Homo sapiens: one gene and its partners. The protein of the gene in region 1 purifies or fractionates together with the protein of each later gene. This does not show direct contact. Each region holds a gene or a part of one and is shown in the gene's direction. Other genes may lie near its edges. The genes, in order: COPZ2, COPB2, COPB1, ZMPSTE24, RDH13 and ARCN1.

What was found.
Region 2: the proteins of COPZ2 (region 1) and COPB2 purify together in Homo sapiens (affinity purification with mass spectrometry; one large-scale study listed by BioGRID and IntAct). This does not show direct contact.
Region 3: the proteins of COPZ2 (region 1) and COPB1 purify together in Homo sapiens (affinity purification with mass spectrometry; one large-scale study listed by BioGRID and IntAct). This does not show direct contact.
Region 4: the proteins of COPZ2 (region 1) and ZMPSTE24 purify together in Homo sapiens (affinity purification with mass spectrometry; one large-scale study listed by BioGRID and IntAct). This does not show direct contact.
Region 5: the proteins of COPZ2 (region 1) and RDH13 purify together in Homo sapiens (affinity purification with mass spectrometry; one large-scale study listed by BioGRID and IntAct). This does not show direct contact.
Region 6: the proteins of COPZ2 (region 1) and ARCN1 purify together in Homo sapiens (affinity purification with mass spectrometry; one large-scale study listed by BioGRID and IntAct). This does not show direct contact.

The regions. Positions count from the first base shown.
Region 1 is NC_000017.11:48,027,798-48,031,297, reverse strand, and holds part of COPZ2 (coatomer subunit zeta-2), read left to right. Parts: intron 1-2,121; coding exon 2,122-2,173; intron 2,174-2,787; coding exon 2,788-2,826; intron 2,827-3,500. UniProt on the Homo sapiens protein: The coatomer is a cytosolic protein complex that binds to dilysine motifs and reversibly associates with Golgi non-clathrin-coated vesicles, which further mediate biosynthetic protein transport from the ER, via the Golgi up to the trans Golgi network.
Region 2 is NC_000003.12:139,369,148-139,372,647, reverse strand, and holds part of COPB2 (coatomer subunit beta'), read left to right. Parts: intron 1-814; coding exon 815-925; intron 926-3,103; coding exon 3,104-3,192; intron 3,193-3,280; coding exon 3,281-3,387; intron 3,388-3,500. UniProt on the Homo sapiens protein: The coatomer is a cytosolic protein complex that binds to dilysine motifs and reversibly associates with Golgi non-clathrin-coated vesicles, which further mediate biosynthetic protein transport from the ER, via the Golgi up to the trans Golgi network.
Region 3 is NC_000011.10:14,493,312-14,496,811, reverse strand, and holds part of COPB1 (coatomer subunit beta), read left to right. Parts: intron 1-2,372; coding exon 2,373-2,602; intron 2,603-3,000; coding exon 3,001-3,170; intron 3,171-3,500. UniProt on the Homo sapiens protein: The coatomer is a cytosolic protein complex that binds to dilysine motifs and reversibly associates with Golgi non-clathrin-coated vesicles, which further mediate biosynthetic protein transport from the ER, via the Golgi up to the trans Golgi network.
Region 4 is NC_000001.11:40,271,736-40,275,235, forward strand, and holds part of ZMPSTE24 (CAAX prenyl protease 1 homolog), read left to right. Parts: intron 1-158; coding exon 159-300; intron 301-3,500. UniProt on the Homo sapiens protein: Transmembrane metalloprotease whose catalytic activity is critical for processing lamin A/LMNA on the inner nuclear membrane and clearing clogged translocons on the endoplasmic reticulum.
Region 5 is NC_000019.10:55,046,149-55,049,648, reverse strand, and holds part of RDH13 (retinol dehydrogenase 13 isoform 1 precursor), read left to right. Parts: intron 1-885; coding exon 886-990; intron 991-1,107; coding exon 1,108-1,320; intron 1,321-1,391; exon of another isoform or gene 1,392-1,603; intron 1,604-2,160; coding exon 2,161-2,262; exon of another isoform or gene 2,263-2,544; intron 2,545-3,500. UniProt on the Homo sapiens protein: Retinol dehydrogenase with a clear preference for NADP. Oxidizes all-trans-retinol, but seems to reduce all-trans-retinal with much higher efficiency. Has no activity toward steroids.
Region 6 is NC_000011.10:118,589,409-118,592,908, forward strand, and holds part of ARCN1 (coatomer subunit delta), read left to right. Parts: intron 1-932; coding exon 933-1,098; intron 1,099-3,300; coding exon 3,301-3,448; intron 3,449-3,500. UniProt on the Homo sapiens protein: Component of the coatomer, a cytosolic protein complex that binds to dilysine motifs and reversibly associates with Golgi non-clathrin-coated vesicles, which further mediate biosynthetic protein transport from the ER, via the Golgi up to the trans Golgi network.

The DNA.
Region 1 (3,500 bases):
TGTATTTTTAGTAGAGACGGGGTTTCACCATGTTAGCCAGGATGGTCTCGATCTCCTGACCTCGTGATCCGCCCACCTCAGCCTCCCAAAGTGCTGGGATTACAGGTGTGAGCCACCATCCCCGGCCAATAGAAATTTCTTGAGCTCCTTAAAAACATACATCCCTCTATCATTACATCATTTTATACATTAGGAAACAGGCTCAAAGTTTCAAGTGACACGCCGGAGGTCTCTCACACAGCTAGGGAGTGGCAGGGCCAAGATCTAAAACCATGTGAATAGTTCCAGAGGCCATGCTGTTTCTATGGCACTGTACTGGACTGCCTGGGGCACTAAGGAATGCCTCCTGCAGATTTCTGGGACCCAAAAGGGAGTGGGGTAACGCCAGGTTTTGGGGAGCCAGAAGCATATACAATTTGGTGAACCCTCTTGAAGGAAAACTTTACACAAACACACACAAAACTATAAATGCAAAACAAGATGCAGGGCTCTGGATGGCTGTGCAAAGGAGGATGCCTGAGGTGTAAGCTTCACAAGCTTCCCGTCTCTGCCTCTGAGGAACTCAGTTTCCTGCCAAGAAAAACTGGGGAAGCGCCAGTCGGGAGGCAACGCCTAAACTGGAGCCTTGGCCTGGGATGCTCTTTCTTTATGGATTACAGGACCCCTGGTTAGGGAGCTTGGGACAGGGGGTGCTCAGCCCAAGGATGGGGACTGGAAGAGGCTCCCAAGAAATGTTTGTCATTTCCAGTGATTTAGTAACAAAGAGAAACAAAGCTTCTGCCTTGGAGGAGTCTCAGTGGGTAAGGAGGTACACTCAGATCCTGTCATCTTTGTCCTGCCGCAGTGACAGGCCCTCACGCCCATGTACCCTGTACATAACCCCAAGGCCTCACGAAGGAGCGCCTGCTCTCTGAGAAAAGCTACAATATTTGGGTCTATCAAAAGGGAATTTTTTTGTTTGTTTCTTTGTGTGTGTGTGTGTGTGTGTGTGTGTGTGTGTGTGTGTGTTTTGAGATGGAGTCTCACTCTGTCGCCCAGGCTGGAGTGCAGTGGCGTGATCTTGGCTCACTGCAACCTCTGCCTCCTGGGTTCAAGCAATTCTCCTGCCTCAGCCTCCCGAGTAGCTGGGATTATAGGCGTGCGCCACCATTACCGGCTAATTTTTTTTGTATTTTCAGTAAAGACGGGGTTTCACCATATTGGCCAGGCTGGTCTCGAACTCTTCACCTTGTGATCCTCCCACCTTAGCCTCCCAAAGTGCTAGGATTGCAGGCGTGAGCCACTGTGCCTGGCCTAAAAGGGAAGATTTAAAAAAAAAATTTTTTTTTTTTAGACAGAGTCTCACTGTGATGCCCAGGCTGGAGTGCAGTGGCGCAATCTTGGCTCACTGCAACCTCTGCCTCCCGGGTTGAAGCGATTCTCCTGCCTCACCCTCCCAATTAGCTGGAATTACAATGTGTGCCACCATGCCTGGCTGATTTTTGTACTTTTACTAGAGACAGGGTTTCGCCATGTTGGCCAGGCTGGTCTGGAACTCCTGACCTCAGGTGATCCACCCGCCTCGGCCTCCCAAAGTGCTGGGATTACAGGCATGAGCCACCGTGCCCAGCCTTAAAAAAAAAAAAAAAGGGAGGAAGTAGGGGAGAAGGTAGATGCTGATTTTTGGAGTTTCATTTCTTTTATGCAGGGCATGACCCCATGCCATAAAATAACAGTGCAACAAGATAAGAACCCCCAGGGCCTCTCTTCCTAACTCTTTTCACAGGGAATCCAATCCTATACCCAGAAAGTGAAGTGAACTTTCAAGAGCTCTGAGTTTTGAGAGTCCCTGCTTTTGACAACCTGATCATCCTAGACCAGACTGTTCTTATCCAGTTTCAAAGATTTTGCCCAGGGATGACAAAGCATGTGGACCACTGGGTTGAAGCATCAAAGAATCAGAGCTGAGGGCTCTCCATGCTGAGGGAGAGTTCTGACTTGAGGGCTATCAGTGGGAAGGGACCTGGAAGGTGGAGATGTTGCAGGATGCCTTCGGAGAGGGAAGAGGCTTGGCAAGGAGAAGGGGCGGAGGGGAGGATTGTGCCACTGATTTGCCTCCTGGTTTTTCCTCTCATCTTGTAGTGTGATTCTGGAGAGTGACCCCCAGCAAGTGATCCAGAAGGTGAATTTTAGGGTAAGAGTCTTCCTGGACACCTCCTCTTTTAGGCTGCCCTTCCTGTCCTCCCTGGGAATAGGGCTGCTAGGGCCTAGATGGTAGAAGCCCAAGCTCCTCTAGCAGAAGCCAACCACTGGGCTGACACACTTGTTAGGGGTGAGATGAGCAGCAGTTTCTGGGTGGGATGCCAGTTAATGGAAGAAATCTTCCTGTCCTCTCCCCGGCTAGGAGCACAAGTACCTCACCTCTTTCCTGGTAGGAAGTATAGACTGGGGAAATAAATACATCTTCAAAGAGGCACTAGGTGGCTGCCTTGGCCTTGAGGTTGGGGGTCAGGGGTATGGATAGAACCTCCCTGCCTTGTTTGGCTTTCTCATGTCTGGATGAAACCTTTCTTCCCATCTTTCTTCCCATCTTCCCTCACCCTCCACGCACCATAGCACAATCCCAGAGGTCCTGGCTTCCAAATGACAGGCTGCAGGACTTCTATTAACCAGTGACACAGGTGCAGCTCTGAATCACCCTAACCACTGCACCACCTCACCCATACCCCCAAGCCCCTTTCCTTCACCTCCCTGACCCAGGACCCTCATGCTGGCCCTACCCCACCCCTTGACTCTGCTTCCTTACAGGCAGATGATGGCGGCTTGACTGAACAGAGTGTGGCCCAGGTAGGCCCCCCTGCATCTGCCTTGGCTAGAAATGGTCTAGAGAGATACGGGGAGCAGAGCATCCTAGAGCATCCTAGGGGGACCCAGTGAAGTTATCAAGTCTGAAAAATCAGGGGTGAGAAGGGAAGGGATGAGGCAGTGACAGGTCATATCTTGGAAAGACTCACTGGAGGCCTCCGGGCTCTCCAACTCAGGGGAGCTGGGTACTAATGGATGGATGGGCATGTTACCATCAGCCCACCTCATCTCCTGGCTTGGTTTAGTTGGATTGAAACTAGGATGAGCTGCCTACCTTGGAGATGGCTGGGTCACTTGTGCACCCCAAAAATCTGGGAACTCAGGCCTCTGATGCGCCCTCTACCGAAACCTGGAAAGGGTACCAAATAGGAGTTTGGCTCTTAACCCCTGTCCTTGCCACTTAGGGTGCACACTGGGATTGTTAAGGGACTCTCAAACCCATGATAGGATCTGACTTTCCCCACTCATCACTTGTCACCTTACCCCTGAGTGACCTGGCTATGGAAGAACCTGCCACAACCCTGCATGGTCTTATCTGGAGGTGCTTGCAGAGCGTAAGGCCAGGGGGAGGTTCCTGGCTCTGAAGCCTGATCAGTTCCCCAGCTGCACAAACTTCCTGCTAGTTCAGGACGACTGTCTTGACCTCTCTTCTGTCC
Region 2 (3,500 bases), on another chromosome or scaffold:
GCAGGTCTGGGCATCTTATAATGCTGTGCTGAGTATTGAAAAAGACAAAAGATATAAACCAAGTATGCCGCCTAGTTCAGTAAATGGTATCCATAATTATTTGTAATATAATTGTCTTATAAAGGTTAAGAATGCATTATGCATATTTCCCTTAATATCGTAAAACATTCTTGGCTGTAAGTTTTGCCTTTGGCAGTCTTTTGATACCAGCCTTTACAGTGTTATAAACAACTTTAAAGATAGTTGTCTTATGTCCATTGGGAAAATTTTCGTTGACTCTGCAGCATTCTGTTTTCTCATTATTTAAATGTTAAAATATCCTCTGTATTTTGCTGAATTTAAGTCTTTAAAACCTGGAGTGAGATATTTTTATTCATTTGAATGATCAGCTTTAAAATGAAGATAGTCTTTGTAATAATATAGTGCCTTCCTGTGGTATAAATGTCATGAGCAAAGTTCTAGGCATCTTGGTGCTCAACAAATACTGGTTGAATAATTGGAATCCTCCTCCTTTGCATTTCCAGCCATTCTCACCTTCCTGCCTCCAGTTGCCTTTATTTATGAGAAGACCATTCCAATAACATTTCAGCAGTAATGCCATATTCATAATTTCCTTTTCAATTTGTTGGCTAGAATTTTTTTTGTAACTTTGTATTCAAAGAAATGTATAACTTTTAAAAGATGTTAAATTGTAATAATGAACTAAATAACATTTGTTATTAGAATTCTTTTACCATAACATGAATTATTGTTCCTTAACTTCTACATGTCTTTGGTCCTCTGTACTTCCCTCCCTGGCTTCTGTGATTTCTAGGTTTGTGGTGGTGTGTGGTGATGGGGAGTATATCATCTACACAGCAATGGCATTGAGAAACAAGAGCTTTGGATCTGCTCAGGAGTTTGCATGGGCCCACGATTCTTCAGAGTAAGTTTTGATTGTATGATAGCCAGCATGCCCTGATTGCAGATGTGTTGTGTGCTGCTTGAAGACTCTCAAGGCTTGATGTGGGCTGTGATTCTCCGTGTTAAAAAACAGTTCTCACCAGAGCTGTCCATTGGAAGATGAGAGTCAGAGGCGAGTGTATAGCATGAGCCGTCTTAGTGCTTTCTTTGTTCTGCGTTAGGCTGGCTCACTCAAGCTGATACAATAATTCCATTTAACTGGGGACCCAGCACCCATTTCTTTGATGGAGCCCATGGCAGGACCTGGTGCTTTATGGGCTTAAGGCACAGTAGACCCTCATGTCTGCCTTGGCAGGCCTTGGCATGCCCTCCCTGTGATGTAGTGTCCTGAGGTGCTACTGCCCCTTTATGAGCTACTTGGGAGTGATGTTGTGGTTTGATCATTTTGATGAGAAATTTATTAAATCTTTTTTAAAACTTATTTTCTGTGATAGTACCCACTGCCCATTCTTAACAAATTTCTGTCTGAATTCAGAATGTTCATAAAATGTTCTCATTAAAAGCAGGAAAGATCATTTAACTCTGACTTTTTTACTAGTCATTGGCTCTGGTTCCTTTTTGATTCCTGTTTAATGCACGTAATAAACATTAGGGGTTTAGTGTTTTCAGACCACACAACTGAATTACATTTTCACAGTTTTTTTAGTTTTGTTTGCCCCACATTTTATGTTGCATCTTGCCCCCAACAGTGGGGTAACTTAAGCCTCAGCGTTGTGTAATAAGATACATTTTTTAAAATGTTACAACAGTAAGATTTATTGAGAGGTATGGAATTGTTCTGATATTTTCATAAATTTCCTAAATACACATATACATACAGTTCTATGTATTCAAAGGTAATGTGTTATCTTAAGCAAAATTATAGTTGATGAATTGCCTTCTCTCAGCACACCTCTTCCTCTATTTTGATAGTCCTTTTTTTCAGCTCTATCCAGCCAAGACCTTGCTCAGCATCTTTCCTGTCCTGAGCAAAGCCCTCATCACATCACTTCCTCAGACAATCTTAAATATCCAGTGATAGCCACAGCTCCTTTTTTCAAGGCAGAGGCCTGAATATAAGCAGTTGTTGCTGATGATGGCTGATTAATGAACCATTTGTCACAGTTTTTATTATTTAAATCGCCCTTATTGAGGTATAATTTACAGAAGACAGAATGTACCACTTAATTGTACAGCGATCCCCCGATCTGTGGTTTCCCTTCCTGCAGTTTTAGTTACCCACAGTCAACTGTGTTCCAAAAATATTAAGTGGAAAAGTCCAGAAATAAACAACTCATAAGTTTTAAATTGCCCAGTGTTCTGAGTTGCATGGTGAAATCTTGAGCCATCCTACCTGGGACGTGAATCATCGCTTTGTCTAGCATATCCACATTGTATATGCTGCCCACCTCTTACATTATAGGAAAAAACATAGTGTATATAGGGTTCAGTACTATCTGAGGTTTCAGGCATCCATTGGGGCTTAGAACGTATCCCCCATGGATAAGGGAGGACTACTGTTCATGTCAGTAGATTTGGGCAAATGTATGTAATCCGTAACTACTAACACAATCAAATTATAGAACATTTCTATCATCCCCGCAAAATCCCCTTGTCTCCATTAACAGTCTGTCCATACCCCCCATCCACCCATTCCCCAGTCCCAGGCAAACACTGATGAGTGCCTTTTGTCACTATATAGATTAGAGTTGTCTTTGGAGTTTCATATAAATGGAATCATACAGTATGTACTCTTGAGTCCAGCATCTTTTGTTCAGTATAATGTTTTTGAGATTCATCCATATTCTTGCCTGGATCAGTAATTGGTTTCTTTATTTGCAGAGTAGCATTCCATTATATGAATATACGATAATTTGTTTAATCATTCACCTATTGTGGACATTTGGGTCATTTTCAGTTTCTAAAGTGGTTTGTAAGCCCTAGTAATTCATGTCATACACAGTATAAAACCCTTTCATCATTTGTCCAACTGTAAGGAGTTCTCTGATCTCTTAGGAAAACAGTACATCAGATAATCTTCAAATATTTATTTTATATTTTTGCATAATTACTGAAAAATATTTGAAGATATTTCCAACATTTGGTAGAACTATGATTTAGTATATAACATGTTATGTTTGCCTTCCCTTTTTTCTCCCAGGTATGCAATAAGAGAGAGCAACAGCATTGTAAAGATATTTAAGAACTTTAAGGAAAAAAAATCATTTAAACCAGATTTTGGAGCAGAAAGTGAGTGTGATCTACATATGATACATTTTTAAATTCTTTGTAATGGCTCAAAAATGCCTAAGCAAAACTCTTTTTATGTTCCCTTTAGGTATCTACGGCGGCTTCTTATTGGGAGTCAGATCTGTAAATGGCTTAGCCTTCTATGACTGGGACAATACAGAACTCATACGAAGAATTGAAATTCAGCCCAAACATGTGAGTTTCCCCTCCATTGTTGTTTTTGGAATATTTATTTTTGTGATGAGTTCTGGGTCCCTAAGGCCAAGAAGTGTCTTTTGTACCCTGCTCTCCCTCTTCGATTATCAAAA
Region 3 (3,500 bases), on another chromosome or scaffold:
AGCTATGTAGGATAATTTGATGTCAAGTAATGTGATTCCTTCAGTTTTGTTCTTTTTGCTTAGGATAGCTTTGGCTATTCTGGGTCTTTTGTGGTTCCATATAAATTTTAGGATTTTTTTTTTTTTTCTGTGAAGAATGTCATTGGTATTTTGATGGGAATTGCATTGACTCTAGATTGCTTTGGGTGGTATGGACATTTTAACAATACTGATTCTTCTAATCCATGATCATGGAATATCTTTCCATTTGTTGATGTTCTCTTCAATTTCTTTCATCAGTATTTATAGTTTTCATTGTAGAAATCTTTCATTTATTTGGTTAAATTAATTCCTAGGTATCTAATTTTATCTGTGGGTATTGTAAATGGGATTAGATTACTTCTTCAATTTCTTTTTCAGATTGTTCACTGTTGTCATATAGAAATGCTACTGATTTTTGTATGTTGATTTTGTGTCCTGGAACTTTACTAAATTTATCATATTTCTGAATTTTAAAAATGTATACCGTGTCTCCTTTTTGTGAGTGATTCTGTCAAGAAAAAAAAAATTTATAATTAATATGCTTTCCAAAGTAATGATTCTTGTTTAATTGAACTGCTAAAAATAAATACAACTTAAACTGATAAATATTGTTTAAACAGAGCAGAGTGAAAATTATGCTTCAAATATAGAAAGGATCTTTTAGAAGATAGTTTGCAGTTTGAAAAGAAACTTAATATTTTACTTGCCTATTCCCACTTCTTAATCAGCAGTAATGGAATACCTCCTGATTCTAGGTTACTTAATACTAGGTTTCTATTGAGGTCTATTTTTAGAGAAGGGAAAAGAAACCCAGTTTTATGATATTTAAAATGATACCATTATATACATAAGCCACATATATTTCCCTTTTTTCATGTTCATGTAGGATAGTTGAATGCAAAATAGTGAATACATTCATTAGTGTTTTTCCTCATAATTTAAAAATTTTCATTGTTAGATCCTCAGGATACCTAAGGTTATAGCTAGGAAGGTAAAGAATAAAATCTGCCCTTAGTTGGAACAATGCCCTAGTCTTAATTGAAGCTGCCTTAGCTACCTTCCTCCAACCAATAAATAAATACATACTCTCCAGTTTAATGTATATTTTTGCCATTAAGAAGAGTTGAGACTGGGCATGGTGGCTCATGCCTGTAATCCCAGCACTTTGGGAAGCTGAGGCAGGTGGATCACTTGACTTCAGGAGTTCGAGACCAGCGTGGCCAACATGGCGAAACCCCATCTCTAGTAAAAATACAAAAATTTTAAGTGGCTATTAAATGAAGAGTTCTGTGGGCCAGATGAACCACCGCATCTGACGCTCAGAACTCTGTTTCATAGCCGCTTAGCTCTAATCATTAGAAATGTATTTCTCATATTTAGGCCCAAATCTGGTTCCCGGTAACTACTACCCATTAGTTGTAGTTCTTTTCCTCATAATGGCCCTAAGGTTATTGAAGACTTGTAATCATTCTTTGTTCTCCCCTTCCCAAGATAATTCATTTATTTTGATGATCTAAACAGTTGTAGTACAGTGTGCTACTACATACTTCTCTGCCTTTGAGTTTTGGATCCAGAAGATTTTTAGTACTATAAATTCTTCAGTATGCAATGATAATGGTGTGAAATTTTAGATAGTTTTGCGTAAAATACTTTATGTTGCAGAGTTTTTAGGCTAAATAACAGTAAACTAGCATTTTATCTTTAATGTGTCATCCTTAATTCTAAATAATGACTACTAATCTAGAACATTTGAATTACCTCCCAGTTTTCCAGATGATATCTTAAGAAAGATTCTAAAGTTTTACAGCCTGCCTGCAGAACTATGATGAGATTTTAGAAATAATCCACTACTTTAGTTTTCAGCCTTTTTGAGTATGACGTTTCTCTTTCTAATGTTAAAAAAGTTACATATTTATCCTCCCATAATAGTAGTTTTAACTTTGTTAAAATGCACACAAATAGCTAAAAGCTGTTTTGAATTCAAAATCAATTAATAGTATGTATTTACATTTTGAAAAATAGCTATATGTGTTTTGAAACACGTTTACTTGGTATGACTGTAGATTCATGGAGCCTGCATTAACTCAATTGGTTAGGAACCAGAAATCTAATCCAGCGCCTTCATATTATATATAAAGAGTCTGATTTCCAGAGATAAATGACTTGAGCAAAGACAGATTATTTGGTGGAGAACCAGGTGGAGAACCTTGTCACTTGGGTTTGTACTTTTATTACCATTGCTGATACTGAAGTAAGAAGGTACATTTTATTTTGTTAATTGCTTTTAAATTTATGTGATGAATTTTCTTTTGAAATAATTGTGCTTTTTTTTAAAAAAATTTTTGATTCAGAAAAAGGAGATGTAAAGTCAAAGACTGAAGCTTTGAAGAAAGTAATCATTATGATTCTGAATGGTGAAAAACTTCCTGGACTTCTGATGACCATCATTCGTTTTGTGCTACCTCTTCAGGATCACACTATCAAGAAATTACTTCTGGTATTTTGGGAAATTGTTCCTAAAACAACTCCAGATGGGAGACTTTTACATGAGATGATCCTTGTATGTGATGCATACAGAAAGGTAAACCAAATCATAATTATTTCTGAATATTGCTTTGAATTTAAATGTAAAATTGGTAGAATGGGCTGTGTTTTAATTGTTAAAATTGAGTCTTTGATAAGATGTAAGTTGTAGAGATTTGGAATTGTAAAAGAGTTATTTTTAAAAGTTTTATTGTCACTTTTCAGACATTTTCTATGCATTTTATGTGTATATATTAATTAAAAAACAGTGACACACATATAAGACATTGATGAGATAGGTAAAAATTGCTTCAGTCAACAAGAATATGATGGAAATTGTCGGTAATCTAGGTTTTTTCTCAAACGTATTTTTTTTCCATTGGAAAGTTTTGCATTAAAATTTTCTTTTTGTAAAAAGCTGAAACTCAGCATTTCATATTTTAATTTTTATATCAGGATCTTCAACATCCTAATGAATTTATTCGAGGATCTACTCTTCGTTTTCTTTGCAAATTGAAAGAAGCAGAATTGCTAGAACCTTTAATGCCAGCTATTCGTGCATGTTTGGAGCATCGACACAGCTATGTTAGAAGAAATGCTGTTTTGGCCATCTATACCATCTATAGGTAAATAAAGATACTGCTTTGGCTTCATTCTGTGAGTACTGTTTAGTCTTTTAGACTAGTGGTTCCAAAGTGGTTGCTTGCAGACTGAATATAGCTTGAAGATATATTTTGTATGGCCAGCACTGTATTTTTTATTATGAACATTGAAAAGTCAAAAGATCTGGCAGCGCTGTTCCTAGCTTCCACAAGACAACATTCTGCTGAACTTGTATAACAGTAACCCCCTTTAAATAAGTTATATACTTTACAGTTTATGACAGTGCTTGTCATTCTCAACCGTATTACTCCAAGCCACTTTATATGTTCACTTGCTTAGCCTCTATAGGCTTT
Region 4 (3,500 bases), on another chromosome or scaffold:
TCTGGTACTATTTGGGCCTGGGAATACCAGAGCAAGTAAGTTCCTTGTTCTCAAGTTTGAGGTCAACATAGTTGTTTTAATATAATTTAATCTGTATAATAAAGAATGTTTTTTCTTTAAGAACATGTTCATATGTTATTCTGACATTTACTTTTCAGGTTCTTGTCACAATCTATGCTGATTATATTGCCCCTTTATTTGACAAATTCACACCTCTGCCTGAGGGAAAGCTTAAAGAAGAAATTGAAGTAATGGCAAAGAGTATTGACTTTCCTTTGACGAAGGTGTATGTTGTGGAAGGTAAGGCTACCTGGGGATAAGAAAGTTTTATCCAAGTGGTTTGTTTTATTTGATACTTTATTCTTAAAATTTTAATAAAAGAATTAATCAGTTTTTGTTTTTTTCTTTTTAAAATTTGTTATTTAAAGGCTAGGAGTTTACCTTTTGGCTTTTTAAGATTTACAGAAATTGATAACATAGGCCAGGGATAGAAACTGGTGGCTTGATACCAAATCCTGCTCTTGTCTGCAGCTATGTTTGTTTGGTTTTACAGTATTGTTTTAAATTTTTGGCCAAGGCTTTTTCACTCTCTGTTATGTTATCTTATATATTAGACTGATTTATTCACTTCTGTTATCTGCCTAGTTCTTTTAGGTAGTTAAGTTGGACTCTTGAATAGTCAAATTCTGTTTAGTATTAGTTTGGAGGCTCTTAAACAAAGCCAGTGTTATTGGCCTTGTCTCCTCCAAGAAAATATCCAGTGTTCTGGAGGACTCACCTGAAGATTGATTACCAAAGACTGCAGTACCACTGAGTACTGCAGATTTGTTATACTCTGCTTTTTTGATGATTACTTTTGAGATTTAAGTGGTCTCTTGACCGTTACTCAAATCTTGACTTCCCATTAACACCCAGTCTATTACTTTCTTTGAGACTTTGGTAGTTGACTATTAAAGTCTCAAAGAAGACTACGGAGATGTAGAGAGAAACTGTTGTAAGGTTCTATGACTTTCAGAATTTATAAAGTCCATATAAATGAATGTAATAGTTCTGTTCCTGCCACTTACCAGTTATAGGATCTTGGACAAGTGACTTCACCCTTCTGGGTTTCAGTTGTATTTCCTCTAAGCTATGGTTTCACAAATGTTTTTTGTAAAGGGCTAGATAGTAAATATTTTAGCTTTGCGGGCCACTTGTTCTCTGTTGCAACTATTCAGTGCTACTATTATAGCGCAAAAGCAGCCATAGACAATACTAAACAAATGAGTGTGGCTGTGTTCCAATAAAACTTTATGAAAATAAATGGCAGATTGGATTTGGCCTGTGAGCTACAGTTTGCTGATCCCTGCTCTAAAATAAAATATTACCAGTGAGAAGCAGCAGTGTTAGATGAAGGAATAGAAGCAGAAACAATCACAGGGTTAGAGGAGAACAGAGATGGTCACAACTGAAAAGAATGAATCAACAGCAACTGGAAGAACATAGAAATTTCAGACATCTGGCTGGGCGCTGTGGCTCACGCCTGTAATCCCAGCACTTTGGGAGGCCAAGGCAGGCGGATCACCTGAGGTCAGGCGTTCGAGACCAGCCTGGCCAACATGGTGAAACCCTGTCTTTACTAAAATACAAAAAATTAGCTGGGCGTGGTGGTGCGTGCCTGTAATCCCAGCTACTTGGGAGGCTGAGGCAGGAGAATCGCTTGAACCTGGAGGTGGAGGTTGTGGTGAGCCAAGATCAAGCCATTGCACTCTAGCCTGGGCAACAAGAGCCAAATTCTGTCTAAAAAAAAAAAAAAAAAAAAAATATATATATATATATATATATATATATATATGTCAGACATTTAGTGGCTCCTGAGGATATACAGCCCAACTAAAGGCACGATTGGAGTAGCTTAAAAGTCTGTGGAGAAATGGTAGAATAAGCCAGTTCATACTTACTTCTTTAGCCTCTGAAATAACTACTCTTTTTTTTTTAGGTAATATTAAACTAGAAATTTAATCATTAATCAGTACAACAGAATAGTCTCTAAGCTGCTTTTACTGAAGGAGCAACCTAAGTTGCTGATCCCTTAAGTTACAATCAGATAACGTGAAATAATAGTTAATGCTATGACAGTGGAGGTAGTCAATAGAATATGTGAAATATATCGGTGCTATTTTCTTTTTATCTTTTTTTTTCCCCCTACAACATCCAGAGTATGAGAGCTATTTTCATTTTAGATAAAATAGTCAGGGAAGGCTTTATGGAAGGTTATGACCTGAGCTGGGTGTTAATGGGAAGTCAAGATTTGAGTAGGTTGGGGGCAGCATTTCAGACGTCAGGCTTCAGGGTCAAAAGGCTTGGGTTTGAATCATAGCTCTACCACAGATTACCAGTGCTGGGCTTGGTGGCTCCAGCCTGTAATCCCATCTACTGGGGAGGCTGAGGTGGAAGGTCAGGAGTTCGAGACAAACTACTTGTGTGACTTTGCGCAACTTAGCTTTGCCAAACAGCAGTTTACTCACCTATAATGTATGTTTTAATTGTTGTTAACAACAGTAACAATTCTCAAAAATATTTTGAATGAATGAATGTTGTTGCTGACAATAACAACACACATTACATATTTGTAAATTGGTAGGGAGATTGTAGTGAAAAGCCAAGAATCTTGCTCTCAAAATATTATCAGATAGCAAGTGCTATGCAGCAAATTAAACTAGTTTGGTCTGATAAGTTGATACTGTAGATTGGTCATCAGATTGAGCTGAGACCTAAAGGGAGGAGCCGCCCATTTGACGTCAATGGGAAGATGTTCAAGGACCATGAAGAAGTCCAGTGTGGCTGCACCATAGCAGGAGAGTGTTAGGAGATGAAATCTGAGACATAGGCAAGAATCAGTCCACATAGGCCTTTGTAAGTCAGGGTAAGGAGTTTGGATTTTGAGTTCAGTGGGAAGAGCCATTGAAGGCTTAGACAGGAAAGTGACATGATCTGCTTTGTGTTTTTAAAATATCCTGGGCTACTGTATGGAGAATATGTTGTAGAGACAGGCAAAAGTCTAGGTAGGACATAATGGTAGCTTAGACTAGGATAATAGTAATTAATGGAGAGAAGTGGATACATTTGGGACAAGTTTTAGGGTAGAGTTGATTGAATTTTCTAATTGATTGCATTGGGAGAATAAGGGAAAGAGTGACATCAAAGATAATGGCCTAGACTTTTGACCTGAGCAGTTAGATATATGGTAGTTTCCTGAGATGGAAAAAAATAGGAGAAGAGTAGGTTTGTGGGGAATTAAGACTTCTAATGGCTATATTACATATTGAGGAACCTACTAAACATTGTATTAGAATTCTGCAAGCAATAGAAACCAACTGTGGCTGATTTAAGCAGAAAAACTGCTTATTGAAGCACTATTTGGACCAGGCGCAGTGGCTTATGCTTGTAATCTCAGCACTTGGGGAGGCCGAGGTGGGCGGATCACTTGAGGTCAGAAATTCGAGACAAGCCTGGCCAAC
Region 5 (3,500 bases), on another chromosome or scaffold:
CCTGGCTAATTTTGTATTTTTAGTAAAGACGCGGTTTCTCCATGTTGGCCAGGCTGGTCTCAAACTCCTGACCTCAGGTGATCTGCCCACCTCGGCCTCCCAAAGTGCTGGGATTACAGGCGTGAGCCACTGTGCCCGGCCAGGTCTGTGAGGTTTTAAACCACCTGTCTGTGGCACTTTGTTACGGAACCCGAGCTGAGTGGTACAGGGAGGAAGGCCCTGTGGTTCAGCGCATTTTACAGCTGAGGAAACTGAGGCTGCAGTCTCCATCTGTGTGTCCTTTGGTTGCTTGTATGAGTGAGGTGGCAGGTTTGGGAATGAAACCACGCCTGCGGTGCCGGGGCTCCCACCGGTAACCTCCCGTTTTTGGCCTCGGGGCTCCGGCAGGAAGGAGTCCCAAGGCTTAGATGGAGGTGCGGAGGGCGTGTGAGTGTCCTGGAGCTGCTGTAACAATGTACTGCAAACCCAGTGGCTTACACCCTCAGACGTGCATTCCCTCACGGTTCCGGAAGCCGGCAGTCTGAATCGCGGTGTCCCTGTGGCTGTGACCTGTGAGACGGGCCATAATCCTCCCAGCCTCTTCCACTTCCAGCGGGGGCGGCCCACCCTCACCTTGGAGCTGTGCCTCTCCGGTCTTTGCCTCTGTCCACACATGGCCTTCTCCCCATGTGTCTCTGTCTCTGTTTTCCCTTCCTATAAGGACACCAGTCATTGGATTAGGGCTCACCCTAATGACCGCATCCTGACATGGCCACTTCGGCACAGACCCTGTTTCCGGCACAGGCCACATTCACAGGTTGTGGGAGCACAGGAGTGTTTCTGCTGGTGCATCAGGCTGGGGTCTGTCCTCACCGGGATGTCTCCTCCTCCACCCCTCTCTTCCAGAGGAGGAGCGAGTGGACATTCTAATCAACAACGCGGGTGTGATGCGGTGCCCCCACTGGACCACCGAGGACGGCTTCGAGATGCAGTTTGGCGTTAACCACCTGGGTGAGGCCTGGGCAGGGGCTGCACCATGGGTTCAAGCGATCCTCCCCCGTCGTCCTCCCAAAGTGCTGGGATTTTAGGTGTGAGTCAAAAGTGACCTTTTCATCATCCTTAATCCAGGTCACTTTCTCTTGACAAACTTGCTGCTGGACAAGCTGAAAGCCTCAGCCCCTTCGCGGATCATCAACCTCTCGTCCCTGGCCCATGTTGCTGGGCACATAGACTTTGACGACTTGAACTGGCAGACGAGGAAGTATAACACCAAAGCCGCCTACTGCCAGAGCAAGCTCGCCATCGTCCTCTTCACCAAGGAGCTGAGCCGGCGGCTGCAAGGTACGGGGGCGCTAGGCTCGGCCTCCCTCTTGCTTTACTCTGAGCCTAGAGCGGCCTTTCCATGATCCTAGGCTGATGGGAGGCCAAACGGTGGATCCAGAACAGAGTCAGCAAAAGTAGAGCATGTGGACCACGCTGCCCGCTTCTGGTGCCTGAAGCAGACATCACTAATCGATCGTTCTTCTGAGGATTGTCTGTTCATCCCAGGTGGTCTAGTCTGCCTGGATCAGATGTCCTTCCCTGCTGCTGTTGGGCAGGCAGCTCAGCCTTTTGGCTCCAGCCAGTGAGTCTCAACCAGGGGCAGTTTTGACCCGCAGTTGTCAATGCCTGGAAACACAGTGATCACAGCTGGCTTGGGGAGAGATTGCTCTGGGCATCTGGAGGGTAAAGGCCCAGATGCTCTCAATGTCCTACAGCGCACGGGATGGCCCCTCACTCCTCCCAACCCACAGCATCCACAGTGCTGAGATTGAGAAATCTGTGCTAGGCCTTTGCTTCTGAAAGACGGTCTGTGGACCAGCGGTGCCAGCCCCACTGGGAGCTGGTCAGAGTTACAGTATCTTAGGTCCCACCGCCACGCACCGATGCAGGCTCCCGGGGTAAGCTCAGCGTTCTGGGTTTATGAAGCCCTCCAGGAAAGCTCGGCTCCCAGCAGCCATGTGGCAGAGCCGCTCCGCAAGATAAGACCACTTCACTAAGATTCCAGAGCAAGAGGGACGATGGGGTTTGAGTGCAGGAAGCAGCCTGGTGCCCGGAAGCCCCACAGCTGGGTGTGGGCTGCCACAGCCTCCCAGGTGAGGCTGGACCCCTCCCTCAGTCTTCTCTTTCTTTCTTCCCCAGGCTCTGGTGTGACTGTCAACGCCCTGCACCCCGGCGTGGCCAGGACAGAGCTGGGCAGACACACGGGCATCCATGGCTCCACCTTCTCCAGCACCACACTCGGTGAGTCCCCTCCCAGCCTGGGGTCTCCACGTGGAGCCCTCCACCCCTGCTTTCTCAGCCCAGGGCCCAGGACCCTCCCTCAGAGACCGTCCCTGAGGCCTCATGCCTGCTCCTCGCCTACGTCTTCTGAGGCACAGAGCACAGGTCCCTTTCCTCCGTTGACCTGGCCTGCCAGCCTCTAACAGCCCCGGGAAGCAGGCAGAGCCCTGCTGGCGGATGAGAAAACCGTGTCTCAGAGGAAGAGGCCGTGGAGCTGACGCCTGGAGTCAGGCTGTACTCAGGGTAACTCCAGCTTCACCCCAAACCAGCTGCACCTCCTGGGGAAGAGCTGTTACCCCTCTGAGCCTGTTTCTTCATCTGCAGAGTGCAGGCCTTAATAGGACTCACCTCACAGTCACTGGGGGGGTTATACGAGACCTTCCTTGAAAGGGCCAGCACAGGACCCCGCCCAGAGAATAGGTGGAACAAACAGTTGGAGCTTTACTTACTTATTTTTGAGATGAAGTCTTGCTCTGTCGCCCAGGCTGGAGTACAATGGCATGATCTCCACTCACTGCAACTTCCACCTCCCAGGTTCAAGCGATTCTCCTGTCTCCAAGTAGCTGGGATTACAGGTGCACACCACCACACCCAGCTAGAGGTGGGGTTTCACCATATTGGTCAGGCTAGTCTCAAACTCCTGACCTCAGGTGATCCAACTGCCTCCCAAAGTGCTGGGATTACAGGTGTGAGCCACCACCCCCAGGCAGTTCATGCTTTATGACTAGTGTTTATAATCCTGAAAAACATGGAGTGGGTGATTGGTTGGCATCAAGAATCTTAACTTGGCGAGGCTAATAGCCACGCCTGTAATCCCAGCACTTTGGGAGGCTGTGGTGGGCGGATTACCTCAGGTCAGGAGTTCGAGACCAGCCTGGCCACCATGGTGAAACCCCGTCTCTACTAAAAATACAAAAATTAGCCAGGTGTGGTGGTGTGCACCTGTAGTCCCAGCTACTCAGGAGGCTGAGGCAGGAGAATCGCTTGAACCCGGGAGGCAGAGGTTGCAGTGAGCTGAGATCACACCACTGCACTCCAGCCTGGGTGACAGAGCAAGACACCAGGTCTCAATAAATAAATAAATAAATGTCTTTTTTTTTTTGAGACGGAGTTTTGCTCGTCACCCAGGCTGGAGTGCAGTGGCACAATCTTGGCTCACTCCAACCTCTGCCTCCTCGGTTCAAGTGATTCTCCTGTCT
Region 6 (3,500 bases), on another chromosome or scaffold:
CGGGTGGATATGCCTTTATTTTTTATTTTTTATTTTTTTGAGACAGAGTCTCACTCTGTTGCCCAGGCTGGAGTGCAGTGGCACCATCTCGGCTCACTGCAAGCTCCGCCTCCTGAGTTCACGTCATTCTCCCACCTCAGCCTCCTGAGTAGGCGCCCGTCACCACACCCGGCTAATTTTGTTTTTGTATTTTTAGTAGAGGTGGGGTTTCACCATGTTAGCCAGGATGGTCTCGATCTTCTGACCTCGTGATCTACCCGCCTTGGCCTCCCAAAGTGCTGGGATTACAGGCGTGAGCCACCACGCCCGTGAATATGCCTTTATTTGAGCAGCCCCCTATTGGCAGACATGTTTCTAAACTTTTGCCATTACAAACAATTCTTCAGTGAATAACTTAGCAGATTGTTTTGCACAGGTGAGAATTTATCTGTAGGATAGAGTCTGTTGAAGAATTGCTGTATCAAAGGGTATCGCCTTTTAAATGTTGATAGCTATAGCAGTAGCACCTTTAAAAAAACGTTGTTGATGGCTAATCATTAGACCTTGGAGAAAGGGAGTTCTGATTTCTACCTTTCTTTTTTCTTTTCTTTTCTTTTTTATTTTTTGAGACAGAGTTTCACTCTTGTTGCCCAGGCTGGAGTGCAGTGGGACAATCTCGGCTCACCACAGCCTCTGCCTCGTGGTTCAAGCGATTCTCCTGCCTTAGCCTCCCAAGTAGCTGGGACTACAGGCATGCACCACCACGCCTGGCTAATTTTGTATTTTTAGTAGAGACGGGGTTTCTCCATGTTGGTCAGGCTGGTCTCGAACTCCCCACCTCAGGTGATCTGCCCGCCTTGGCCTCCCAAAGTGCTGGGGTTATAGGCATGAGCCACCACGCCCGGCCATTGGTTTCTACCTTTCTGAACAAATGTATTACTTTCTCTTTATAGTGTACATATGAAGATTGAAGAAAAGATAACATTAACCTGTGGACGAGACGGAGGATTACAGAATATGGAGTTGCATGGCATGATCATGCTTAGGATCTCAGATGACAAGTATGGCCGAATTCGTCTTCATGTGGAAAATGAAGATAAGAAAGGGGTGCAGCTACAGGTGTGTAGAAGCTTTTGATAGGGAGTATTAACACTTTGTCTACCTATTATAGTCTTTCTCAACTAGAGTTCCCAATATGAACCACAGAAAATTACTTAAGTTATATAACTAGCATCACTCTAAACGCTTAGGAAAGAAGTTAATATATTGCATACAGTAGCTACCTGAGAGTGAGTAAAGCAGCTGTGTAAGGATGGCTTTTAAATATTGGAATTGAATAAAAGGTCATTTCGAAATCTAATAAATGACTTCATACTCACCAATAAAAGGTACAAGGAGGTGTTTGTCTTTTGCTGTTATGAAAACAGTAAATTAATCACTTAGGATCTTGCTTGAAATACAGTTTTAAAAAAACAAGGCTTTAGGCCAAGTGTGGTGGCTCATGCCTATAATACCAGCACTCTGAGAGGCTGAGGCTGAAGGATCGCTTGAGCCCAGGAGTTCAAGAACAGCCTGAGCAATGAGGGCTGAGCAACAAGACCCTATCTCTACAAAAACTTAAAAAATTAGCCAGGCGTGGTGGCACAATGCGAAATTTACTCATTCTGCTATTAAATAAACTGCCAGTGCTTGTTTTGTTAACTGAAGGGCAGTATCTAATGGTGTATTTGAAAAGTACATAAAATCCTTTCAATATAAGTGTGTGTGTTCCAACTATTGGATAGATATATATAAGCCCTGCTTTATGTTACAGGTGTTCTTGTAATTTCATTTCATTTAGCCGACATCTCGTCACAAGAACAAAGCCTTTTTACGGAAGAGTGTTTTTGTCTACTTTCCCCACCGTAGTCAGCACAGAATTGTCTTTTGGAAGCAGTGCTTATATTATTTGACATTTTTGCTGGCTTGTAAAGTGCTATCCAAAAGTGATTTCTGTTTTGTTTTGTTTTGTTTTGTTTTCCTGAGATGGAGTCTCTCTCTGTTGCCCAAGCTGGAGTTCTGTGGTACGATCTTGGTTCACTGCAACTTCTGCCTCCCCAGTTGAAGCAGTTCTCCTGCCTCAGCCTGCTGAGTAGCTGGGATTACAGGCACCTGCCACCATGCCCAGCTAATTTTTTTTATTTTTAGTAAAGATGGGGTTTCACCATGTTGGCCAAGCTGGTCTCGAACTCTTGACCTCATGATTCGCCCACCTCATCATCCCAAAGTGTTGGGATTGTAGTCATGAGCCACCATGCCCAGCCCTTCTGGGTTTTTTTTGTTTTTGTCTTGTTTTTTTGTTCTTTTTTTTGTTTTTTTTTTTGTTTTTGCACAGTCTCTCTCTGTCATGCGGGCTGGAGTGCAGCAGCACAACCTTGGCTCGCTGCAGCCTTAACCTCCTAGGCTCAAGCAATGCTTCCTCTTCAGCCTCCATAGTAGCTGGAACTATAGGTGTGCACCACCACACCCAGCTATTTATTTATTTATTTATTTATTTATTTTTTATTTTTTGAGACGGAGTTTCACTCTTCCTGCCCAGGTTGGAGTGCAATGGTGTGATCTCGGCTCACCGCAACCTCTGCCTCCCGGGTTCAAGCCATTCTCCTGCCTCAGCCTCTCGAGTAGGTGGGATTACAGGCGTGCGCCACCATGTCCAGCCCCAGCTAACTTTTGTATTTTTAATAGAGATAGGGTTTTGCCATGTTGGCCAGGCTGATGTCAAACTCCTGACCTTCAATGCCCCTCTCACCTCAGCCTCCCCAAAAGCAATTTCTTTTAAAAAGATAAGACTATCTTAATTGGCTTGGATTTTAACAACTTTAAGTCTCTAGGCAAAATTGCAACTAGACTTTACACAGAGCTTGCCCTTTTCTGCTACTTTATATAAGGCCAGAACTGCTGTCTGACCCAGGCAGCTGATCAGGGTCTTACTGGAGCCTTCTGCTTGGCAAACCTGGCCCCACCATGAACCTGCTCCCTGTGAAGTATTTTTGGAAAGAACTTGGTTAATAGTCTTTTAACTTTTTCAGGTGCAAACTTGTTCTGTAATGGCTTTTAGAGTTGAAATTAGCTTTTTTTTTAAAAAATTACTAGTTTTTAAGTATCTTAAATCATTTTAAAATAAGTCTTTGAAGAAGGGAAATCTTTCTTCAAAATGAAAAAGAATTGGAATTTGTTAGGTACTCTATTTTGGATGTTTAGATTGTGGGCCATATAAGCCTAGTGAGGGGTTGTTTCTCGTCTATCTGAACCTCAGGAGTTTTCCTTTCCCTCTCATTCTAGACCCATCCAAATGTGGATAAAAAACTTTTCACTGCAGAGTCTCTAATTGGCCTGAAGAATCCAGAGAAGTCATTTCCAGTCAACAGTGACGTAGGGGTGCTAAAGTGGAGACTACAAACCACAGAGGAATCTTTTATTCCACTGACAAGTAAGTGCCTCTGGCCAGTCCCACTAAGCTAGTTTGCATTGAGAACTAGAAA